2 separate regions of the Homo sapiens genome follow, and region 2 is linked to region 1. The links come from fine-mapping of genetic effects on gene expression. A gene starts in region 1. The other region holds a variant in brackets. All regions are shown on one strand. Distances are from middle to middle. Region 1 holds the start of BORCS6 (BLOC-1 related complex subunit 6). Region 2 overlaps PFAS (phosphoribosylformylglycinamidine synthase).

Region 1 (4,382 bases):
GTTCTCTTCCTTATCAGCCTCATTCTTTCCTTCTACAGACAGCGATCTCCTGGACATGAAAGATGGACAAGCTGATACCCAGCTTGAGCTCTCAAGAGAACAGAAAGGCGTCTCACACTCTCCACAAAGCTAGAAACAAACAACACTGTGGAGGATTTTTACTGGTCATACATTGGGTCATGTGCCCTTCCCTGAGCCAATCTGCAGTCAGAAGGATGAAGTACTCTAATTGGCCAGTTTTGGGTCACGTGCCTGTTCCTGGCTGTCATTGCACCAACACATCAGGGAATGGGGAGTTGAGGAGTGAGGAGCTTCCCCTACACAGAGAGACGGTGGGTAGCCCATTTGTCCGCTAAAACCTTCAAGATACATCTAGAATGCATCCATCCACATCGTGCTAGGCTGAGCTACTATCACCTGGTACTTGGAACCGCCTCCTCACTGGTCTACCGTCTCCCTTGCAAACATTTTCTACAACAGCCAGTAATCCCTAAACATGAATCCCATCACATCACTCTCTTCCTGTGCTCAGCTTCCCATTCTCAAGGGAAGTCCTCCCATCTTCTAAAGAATATCTACCTACCCAGCCCAATTATATATGAGCTTTTTAGGTTTTTTTTTTTAGAGCAAAGGAATGACAGGTTTTGTCAAGCTGCAGGTGACTATAAGATACAGACAGCTGACAATTGTGGACTCCTCAGGCGTGGTGAAAGATTGAGCTACTATCATTAGGGTTGGCTGGCTAGGACCCCGGCAGGCACCTGGGGATAGTAGTGCTGGGAAGTTCTGGGGAGTTGCACTTCTGAATGCTGGCATGACACTGCCTCAAGACATCTCTCTATCCAAATGGAAAAAACAACCACATCCTTTGTCAGCTAAGGAGAGTTAGCAAACTGTTTTTATTAAATACTGATGTCTGGCCGGGCACGGTGGCTCACGCCTGTCATGCTAGCACTTTGGGAGGCCGAGGCGGGTGGATCACTTGAGGCCAGTAGTTCAAGACCAGCCTGGCCAACATGGTGAAACCCCATCTCTACTAAAAATACAAAATTAGCCGGGCGTGGTGGCGGGCGCTTGTAATCCCAGCTACCCGGGAGACTGAGTTAGGAGAATCGCGTGAACCCAGGAGGCGGAGGTTGCAGTGAGCCGAGATCGCGCCACTGCACTCCAGCCTGGGTGACGGAGTGGGACTCTGTCTCTAAATACATAAATAAATAAATAAATAAATAAATAAATAAATAAATAAAAATACTGATGTCTCCAAGCTTTGGCTATGTGTTGCAATGTACAACCTTTCCAATGTCGCTGCACCATTGCATTTAGAGGAAATCTCCATTCCCTAACAGGAACTACAAGGCCCCCTGCATGACGTGGCCCCTGCTGCCTGTTCAGCTCCTTGGCTCGAAATCCTTCCCCTTATCTTGCTGATTTTGTTTTAGTCCCAATGTCTCCTGCCCCCTCACCTCAGTTTCTTGAATACGTCAAGACTTCTTTGTCTCTGAGAGGTAGCTCAAGTTTTCTTCTCTCTGCCTGGGGGGTGGCTGCGTCTTTTTGGTTCTTTTTAGTTAAAAGTCTCACCAAAGAGGTATTTTCCTGACCCCTTACCTAAACTAGTGCCTGCTCAGTTATATTCTCAATCATAACACTTTATTTCCTGTATAGCACATATCAAAATTTGTGATCATTTCATTTGTTGAATATTTTACCTCGTGGCAAAATCACACGCCATCCTCCAAGGGGCGAGACCCCTCAGTGTGAAAGGGGCAAGAGACACAGAACAAGAGTGACAAACGCATAGGAAAGCCCAGAGGCCGCTGCCTTGACCACAGTGGGTCGCTCTGAGCAGTTCAGTGGTTAGGTCTCTTAACCAAGAAAGATAGAGCAAACCATTCATGCTCATGCTGGACTTCTGGTTTCCTTCTTTTTAGTCAACTAGGTTCAACCCTGATGGTCCAAGAAGGATATGCCATTTTCATCCTAAGAACCTCTCTAGGAACCCCAAGTGGGCTCCCCACTTGGTATTTTTGCTAAGCAATCACTGTTGGGGGGGGTACAATTACAGGCAGAAAGGATCTGAGCCCCACCCCTCGGGACTCAGGAATTTGAGGACCTTGGTCTTTAAGATCTGCCCCATCAGCTTTCAGAAAGGGCGGGGCGACGGGAGCAGCTGTCACCTCCTTCTCTCCACCCTGCCGGCGTTCACGTGTGTTCCGCTGTGCAGTAACAGCTCTTCTTCCGGGACTTCCTGGTCGCCGCGACCAATCAAAATGCTTTTCCTGTCCTTACCATTGTCAGCCGCTGCCAATCGGCTCGCCTCTACCAACGCCCCTTAAAGGCGCAGCCACTGCCTCCGGAGCCGGGGCGAACCAATTCCTCCGTTGCGGCCCCCACCTGCAGTATGGAGTCGTCTCGGGGGCGGCCCGGGCCCGAGACGGACCTTCTGGCTGTAGCGGAACATCAGGCCCTAGTCTTTGGCGGCGGGCCGGGCCGAACGTCCTCTGAGCCGCCCGCAGGCCTCCGGGTGTCCGGGGAGGAAGAGACCGAGAACGTTGGGGGCGCGAACCGCCACCCCAGGACGTCCCCGAAGACGTCAAGCTGCGGCGTCGTCCACCGGCCGGAACGGGAGGCTCTGGAGAACGAGCCCGGCCCTCAAGGGACGCTGTCTGGGGCCGGGAGCCGCAGGGGGGCGCCGGGTGCAGAGCACGAACCTTCCCTGTCCTCCCGGCACAAGAACCCGGCGCCGCCCGAGGGCAAGCCCTCCTCCGGGAGGGACTGCCGTCGAGGGGGACCAGGCGGCGGGATGGATGTTGAGCAGCAGGAGGAGGAAGACAACGACGAGGAGGCGGCCGCGGGCAGCAGAGCCGGCCGCTCGTTCTCCAGCCGTCTTCAGGACAGCCGCAGCCTGGACGGGCTGAGCGAGGCGTGCGGTGGCGCCGGGTCCTCAGGGAGTGCCGAGTCCGGCGCGGGCGGCGGACGCCGCGCCACCATCTCCAGTCCCCTGGAGCTCGAAGGCACAGTGAGCCGCCACGGCGACCTTACCCACTTTGTCGCCAACAACCTGCAACTCAAGATCCGTCTGAGCGGCGCGCCTCCACCCCCGCCTTCTGCCCCTGCGCGGCCCTGCCCAGCGCCTGCACCCACACCCACACCGGCCATTCCCCCAATCGACCCCGAGGTGCTGCGGGATCTGGAGCGGTTGAGTCGGGAGCTGGGAGGCCGGGTGGACCGTCTGCTTCGCGGTCTGGGTGGCGCGGTGCAGGAGCTGACGGCGCTGAGCGTGGGTTGCATCCAGACCTACCGCGATGCTGTGGACTCCTTAGGTGAAGCCGTGGACATGAGCATCAAGGGCATGTACACCCTGCTGGCGCGCTGCGAGGAGCTGGAGCGGGCTCTGCAGCCGGTTCAGGGGCTGGCGCGCCAAGTCCGGGATATCCGACGTACTCTGGAGGTGTTGGAGGCCCTGTGCAAGTGACCAGGAGGACAGGAGAGGCCGGTCCTGGCCAGGGCAGGGCCCAGCAGGACCCTAAGGACTCTTCAGGGAGTCCTGGTGGGAAGTGCCCACTGAGGGGAGGCCTGTGTGTTGGAGGCTCTTCCAGATGCGTTCAGCTGGCCCGTGCCCACTCGCTGGGCCTTAGGCTGGTGTATGTGGGGAAGTTCTAACGGCTCTCCTGGTGGGAAGGGATGTTGCTCTGCTTGTATTCAGTTGGCCATCTGTAGCTACCCTGTTCTTCCCAACTCTCCTCCCTAGCTAGAGCACCAGCCCTGGGAACACGGGGCTTTAGGTCTGCTTGAAGGTGAGGACGTGACTCCCACATGTAATCAGGAGAAAGGGACAGAGGAAGCCCCAGCCCCCACTGTGGCTATCCTGACTCCAGTGGCCACATCTCAGGTGCCAGGGGCTGTGGGAGCTTGTGCCGTCCTTGGCCAAACACCCCGCAGGCAAAGATGCACCCCTGCTGATGGAGAGCCTTCTGCTTCTGCCCTCTGGCCCTCTACCATACCACTTCCCCAGCCAGAACCGGCGTGCAGCTAGGAGGAATGGGTTGCACGGCGGAGGGGGTGAGGTGGGAGGCGTCTCACTGCTCTCAGGGTTCAGGTAGAATGTTGCTGGTTTTGAAGCTCACCTGTTGTGGAGTGTTCTAATCAGTTTTGGCTTTCTGAGTTTTTGTGGAATTAAAGTGCTGCTGCTGCGAAGGCTGAGGCTGAGTCTGTGTGGGGTTGCAGTGATTAATAAGCCAAAGGAATGGGAATGAGGGTCGGTGTTGTTCACGCAGCTCCCTTGGGGCTGGTGCTGGGAGTGGGGTGGGGGTGGAGATGTCTCAGGCTCCGTGGGGAAAGATATGGTTCTTGCTCTTAAGCATCTGGTCTGAGGGGAAATGTGA
Region 2 (4,382 bases), 65 kb before region 1:
CGCCTCAGCCTCCTGAGTAGCTGGGACTATAGGCGCCCGCCACCACGCCCAGCTAATTTTTTGTATTTTTAGTAGAGACGGGGTTTCACCGTGTTAGCCAGGATGGTTTTGATCTCCTGACCTTGTGATCCGCCCACCTCAGCCTCCCAAAGTGCTGGGATTACAGGCGTGAGCCACCACGCCCAGCCAAGTTTCTCAGGCTAAGAAACCAGATTTGAGGGGCAGGTACTGATCATAAGACCAACCCAATATCATGCTTTCTGGCTGAATGAAGGCTAGTTTTTAAAGAAAATCGTAGACCTGCAAAAGCAGTCTGGCCACCTCATCTCCCCAGGTCTACACTTATGACCATAGTTAGTGAAAGGCCAGCTATCCTAGAGCCCTTCCTCCTGAGAAAAGGCACACAGGATAACCCTATGGACCTAACAGATAGAAGTTTGCTGCCTGCCAGGACAAGGAATCTGGAAGGGAAGGTGGATAGAGAGGAAGGAGATGGAACCTGGAATATGCAGATTTCCAAAGCAATAGCCGGCAGTGCCAGCCACCACGTGGGCCCCGCGGCCTGTGCACTGGACATCTCGAATCCGGCCCCCTGTGCCAGTGGTTGCACCACTAAAGGGGCATACTCCTGCAAAGAGAGAGTGGGGAGAGGTCTGGGTGCCTCAGAGACAAACCCCCATCTCTGACCACCCCCACTGAAAATAAGGACAACCAATTTCCCTGATTATTTTCCCCAGGCCCACTCCAGGGGCCTGGGACCTTTGCCCTACCCTATTCTGTGATCTCACCTATTTCTCCAGGGAACCCAGCTCACCTGTGGGAAAGTTGTGAGTCTCTGCTGTGAAGACAACATGTCTCAGCCCTTGCTGTTGCTGGAAGCGGCTTGGCCGTGTGGGGTCCTCAGGCCGTAGGAATCGGACTTCCTTTCCCTGGATTGCACTGTGGACATACCCGTCATGGACCTTGCTTCCTTTCTGGGACCTACACTAACCCAACCAGGGCCTGGGGCCTCCCCTCCCCGGGTCCTGACGCCAACCCAGTCTAGGGCACAGCACCTGCTGTTATCACAGAATTTGAGGACGTTGTTGGGGTTCGAGGATTCCTGGGTGCTCATGATGGACTCAAACAGTGAGTGCACCAGCTTCTGCCCATCCACGTGGAGCTGGCCCTTGAAGAACCAGTGTCGGCTGTGCTCGCTGCAGGGGGCGATGCAGGGAGGGGAAGGCAGGTGGAAACGGGGTCATTTCTTAATGCCATGTCTTCTCACCAGCATTTAACAGCAGAGTTACAGCCAAATTCATACTTAGATGACAGATCAAAATATATTCCAAAAAGTCATAATCTTCAAGTATTCTGTCATTTTGGACTATCCAGAGCCAAAGTGAAGATAAAACCAAGATTTGAATGTAGACTCCTTGATGGATGACGGGAGCCCAGGCCCTCAGAGACTCAGGGAGGCCCCTAAGCCAAGGGAGGAACATGAAGGTGAGCCCCTGTGGTCTCTCCCAACACCCATGGGCTCAGGTATGGGAACAACCCCATTTCTCCTCACCTATTGGACTGCGCCAAGTCAAAGGCCTCCACAGTGCTCGGGTTCCGCTGTAGCTCCTGGAAGCGCTTGGTGTAGAAGTCTAGGTCCCAAGAGTCTAAAGCCAGACCTAGGAGACAAATCCAGGAAGAGGTGACTATGGAACTCAGGCAGCCACATTCCAGATCTCAGCACCCCTACTGGCCTATCCTGGACCCTACATCTCCCTCCCCAGCTACTCACCAAGCTCCTGGTTGGCCTTCTCCAGCGCAAGCCGGCCCTCACCCAGTATATTGATAGGGCCATTGAGGGGTTCCGGCATGCTCTCAGGGGAGAAACTCTGGATGGGATGGGGGAAGTGCTGCTCTGTCATCCGGTCGTGCAGGGTAGCCAGAGCAATGGCTTCCACCTCAGCTGACGGGGGGTGGGCAAACTAGGGGTGCAGACACACAGAGGGCAAGGGGTGAAGAGTTTAAGAATGGAGAGAAATGGTCCACCTTCCTACCCTCTTAGTCATGCAAGGCTAGCCCACTGCCACACCATATGGCACTTTTTCTCAGATTACAAAAAGACGCCCTTTCCAGGTATGAATCCATGCCAGGATGCACAAATTAAAGGAAGCATAGGCTGGATTTCTGCCCCATTTACCCCTCAACCAGGTACTTTCAGGCAGTGAACAACTTGTACGACCATACAGAGCAGGCCTAAAGCCAGGAGCACCTGTCCCTGCTTCTCTCTAGAGCTTAGGATCTAATCTTGTATCTCTGGCTCATCTCCTCCTCCTGATTCCCCATCACCTCACCGAGAGCCGGTAGCGCCGGGTGGTCTCCACACGATCCACAGGCCCCAGCCCAGTGGCGCGGCACACTGACACGATGTTGGTGGATGTTGGGGTGGAGAAGTTCAGCCTGAACAATGGGCCTGATGGTTAGGACTGGAGAACCCCCGGCAGGCCTCAGCTGGGAGGGTGGATCCTGCC[T/C]ACTGCTGTCTGGACAACCTCCCACCGCTATCCCCTCACCATTGGCTTTCAGCCTCAGGCTGGGCAACAAGAAACCTGCTTTTAAAGTACACTCAAACCAAACCAAAACTGTCCTCTAGCATCAAAACTATTTGATTTTTTTTTCTTTCTGTGAGGCAGAGTCTTGCTCTGTTGCCCAGGCTAGAGTGCAGTGGCGTGATCTCGGTTCACTGCAACCTCTGCCTCCCGGGTTCACACCATTCTCCTGCCTCAGCCTGCCTAGTAGCTGGGACTACAGGCGCCCGCCACCACACCCGGCTAATTTTTTGTATTTTTAGTAGAGACGAGGCTTCACCGTGTTAGCCAGGATGGTCTCAATCTCCTGATCTCGTGATCTGCCCCACCTCGGCCTCCCAAAGTGCTGGGATTACAGGCGTGAGCCACCGCGCCTGGCCAAAACTGTTTGATTTTAACTTGGAATCTAATTTATTTTGCTTTGAGAACATGTTTTGGAGCAGGCTAGGTCTTTGGAGGGATCTACCCAAATGGGGAAAGCACATGTGTGGTTTCCTAGGCAGGAAGTAGCAAAGAGCAAAGGAAAAGCAAATCTCCCAAGGATCACAAGAGGAAGCAAAGGAAAGCAGAAGAAAGGGGTGGGCAGGATGAGATACTTACCTGGGCCCGACCTCCAGCAGCAGGTCATTGGAGCCAGGAAGGAGCCAGGACTCCCGAGCAACATCATCCAGCAGTAAGGGGCAACCAAACAGCCACATCAGCTTCTTTGTCTCCTCAGCACTGGGGAGGGCCTCAGCTGCAGGGAGACAGGGCAAGGACACCTTGAGACACTGCCCCCAGCACCGAGGCATGTCCCCCAAGAATCTAATACCTGGGCCCAACCTGTCCAGTTCACGTTGTAGCACAGTTCAGTCTCGACGCCCTGCAGCTCTGGCAGTTTCCCTTGCAGTTTCCTCCGAGTGTGTCCAGGGGCTGCCCCCTCATGGCCAGAGGGACGAACATAGAAGTGAAGGACTGGGGACATCTCTGCAGGTGTCCTTTGCTGGAGAGAGGTGTCCTTTGCTGGAGAGATGTGTCCTTTGCTGGAGAGATGAATTAGGTTCCTAAAAAATAACATTAACTAAGCCGGGCGTGGTGGCTCACATCTGTAACCCCAGCACTTTGGGAGACTGAGGCAGGTGGATTGCCTGAGGTCAGGAGTTGGAGATCAGCCCGGCCAACATAGTGAAACCCTGTCTCTACTAAAAATATAAAATTAGCTGGGTGTGGTGGCGGGCGCCTGTAATCACAGTTACTAGGGAGGCTGAGGCAGGAGAACTGCTTGAACCCGGGAGGCAGAGGTTGCAGTGAGCCGAGATCGCGCCATTGCACTCCAGCCTGGGCAACAAGAGCAAAACTCCGTCTCAATAAATAAATAAAATAAAAATAACATTAACTATGGCCTATCTGTTGAACTGATTTCAGATTTCAAGGAAAATTGCGGCGTTATGGATAGGGTAGGGGAAAGTAATATGGACATTTAGAGAAACAAGGTAACCTGAAAAATGTAACCTTGGAGATTTTAAGGAATCTTGCAAAATGTGGTCTTTATTAATGTGGTAGGGAGGTGTACAGGCACACACCTGACACGTGTTCCTGGAGTACATGCACTTTGCTGGGCCCCAGTCAAGGTCTTAGAAACACCGCTGTGAATCAAGACAGAAACTCTGTCTGCTCTCACAGGGTTTATATTTTATTGGGGGAGAAAGGCCAAGTACCCAGACATTTCCAGTCCCGTGTGGTGAAGGTCAGGGGACTGTGGACACCAATCCTGCACTTCAGGTGTCAGGAAAAATTTCCTGAGAGAAATGGTATCAGCCATGGATTGAATGTTTGTGTATC

The links. PIP is the estimated chance that this variant, and not a neighbour inherited with it, causes the effect.
Region 2: its variant is the best candidate, but not a certain one, in a credible set for the expression of BORCS6 in whole blood (INTERVAL, PIP 0.58).

Annotation. Positions count from the first base shown.
Region 1 is chr17:8,188,157-8,192,538 of GRCh38, reverse strand. BORCS6 (BLOC-1 related complex subunit 6) reads left to right here and starts at 2,359. Exons shown (of 1, transcript NM_017622.3): 1 at 2,359-4,194. The coding sequence starts at 2,399. The coding sequence ends at 3,472. It overlaps LOC124903913 (a long non-coding RNA gene), which reads left to right. Exons shown (of 2, transcript XR_007065604.1): 2 at 39-1,264. RefSeq lists enhancers at 1-82, 1,900-2,545, 2,288-2,567, 2,546-3,192, 4,331-4,380 and silencers at 2,678-2,727, 2,928-2,987, 3,058-3,107.
Region 2 is chr17:8,253,081-8,257,462 of GRCh38, reverse strand. PFAS (phosphoribosylformylglycinamidine synthase) reads right to left here. Exons shown (of 28, transcript NM_012393.3): 2 at 3,384-3,604; 3 at 3,162-3,297; 4 at 2,331-2,436; 5 at 1,772-1,961; 6 at 1,553-1,658; 7 at 1,056-1,196; 8 at 815-939; 9 at 500-628. The coding sequence starts at 3,525. Among named protein-coding and RNA genes, the nearest start is that of PFAS, 6.0 kb to the right of the region's middle. The variant T/C (reference allele first, on the strand shown) is at 2,508.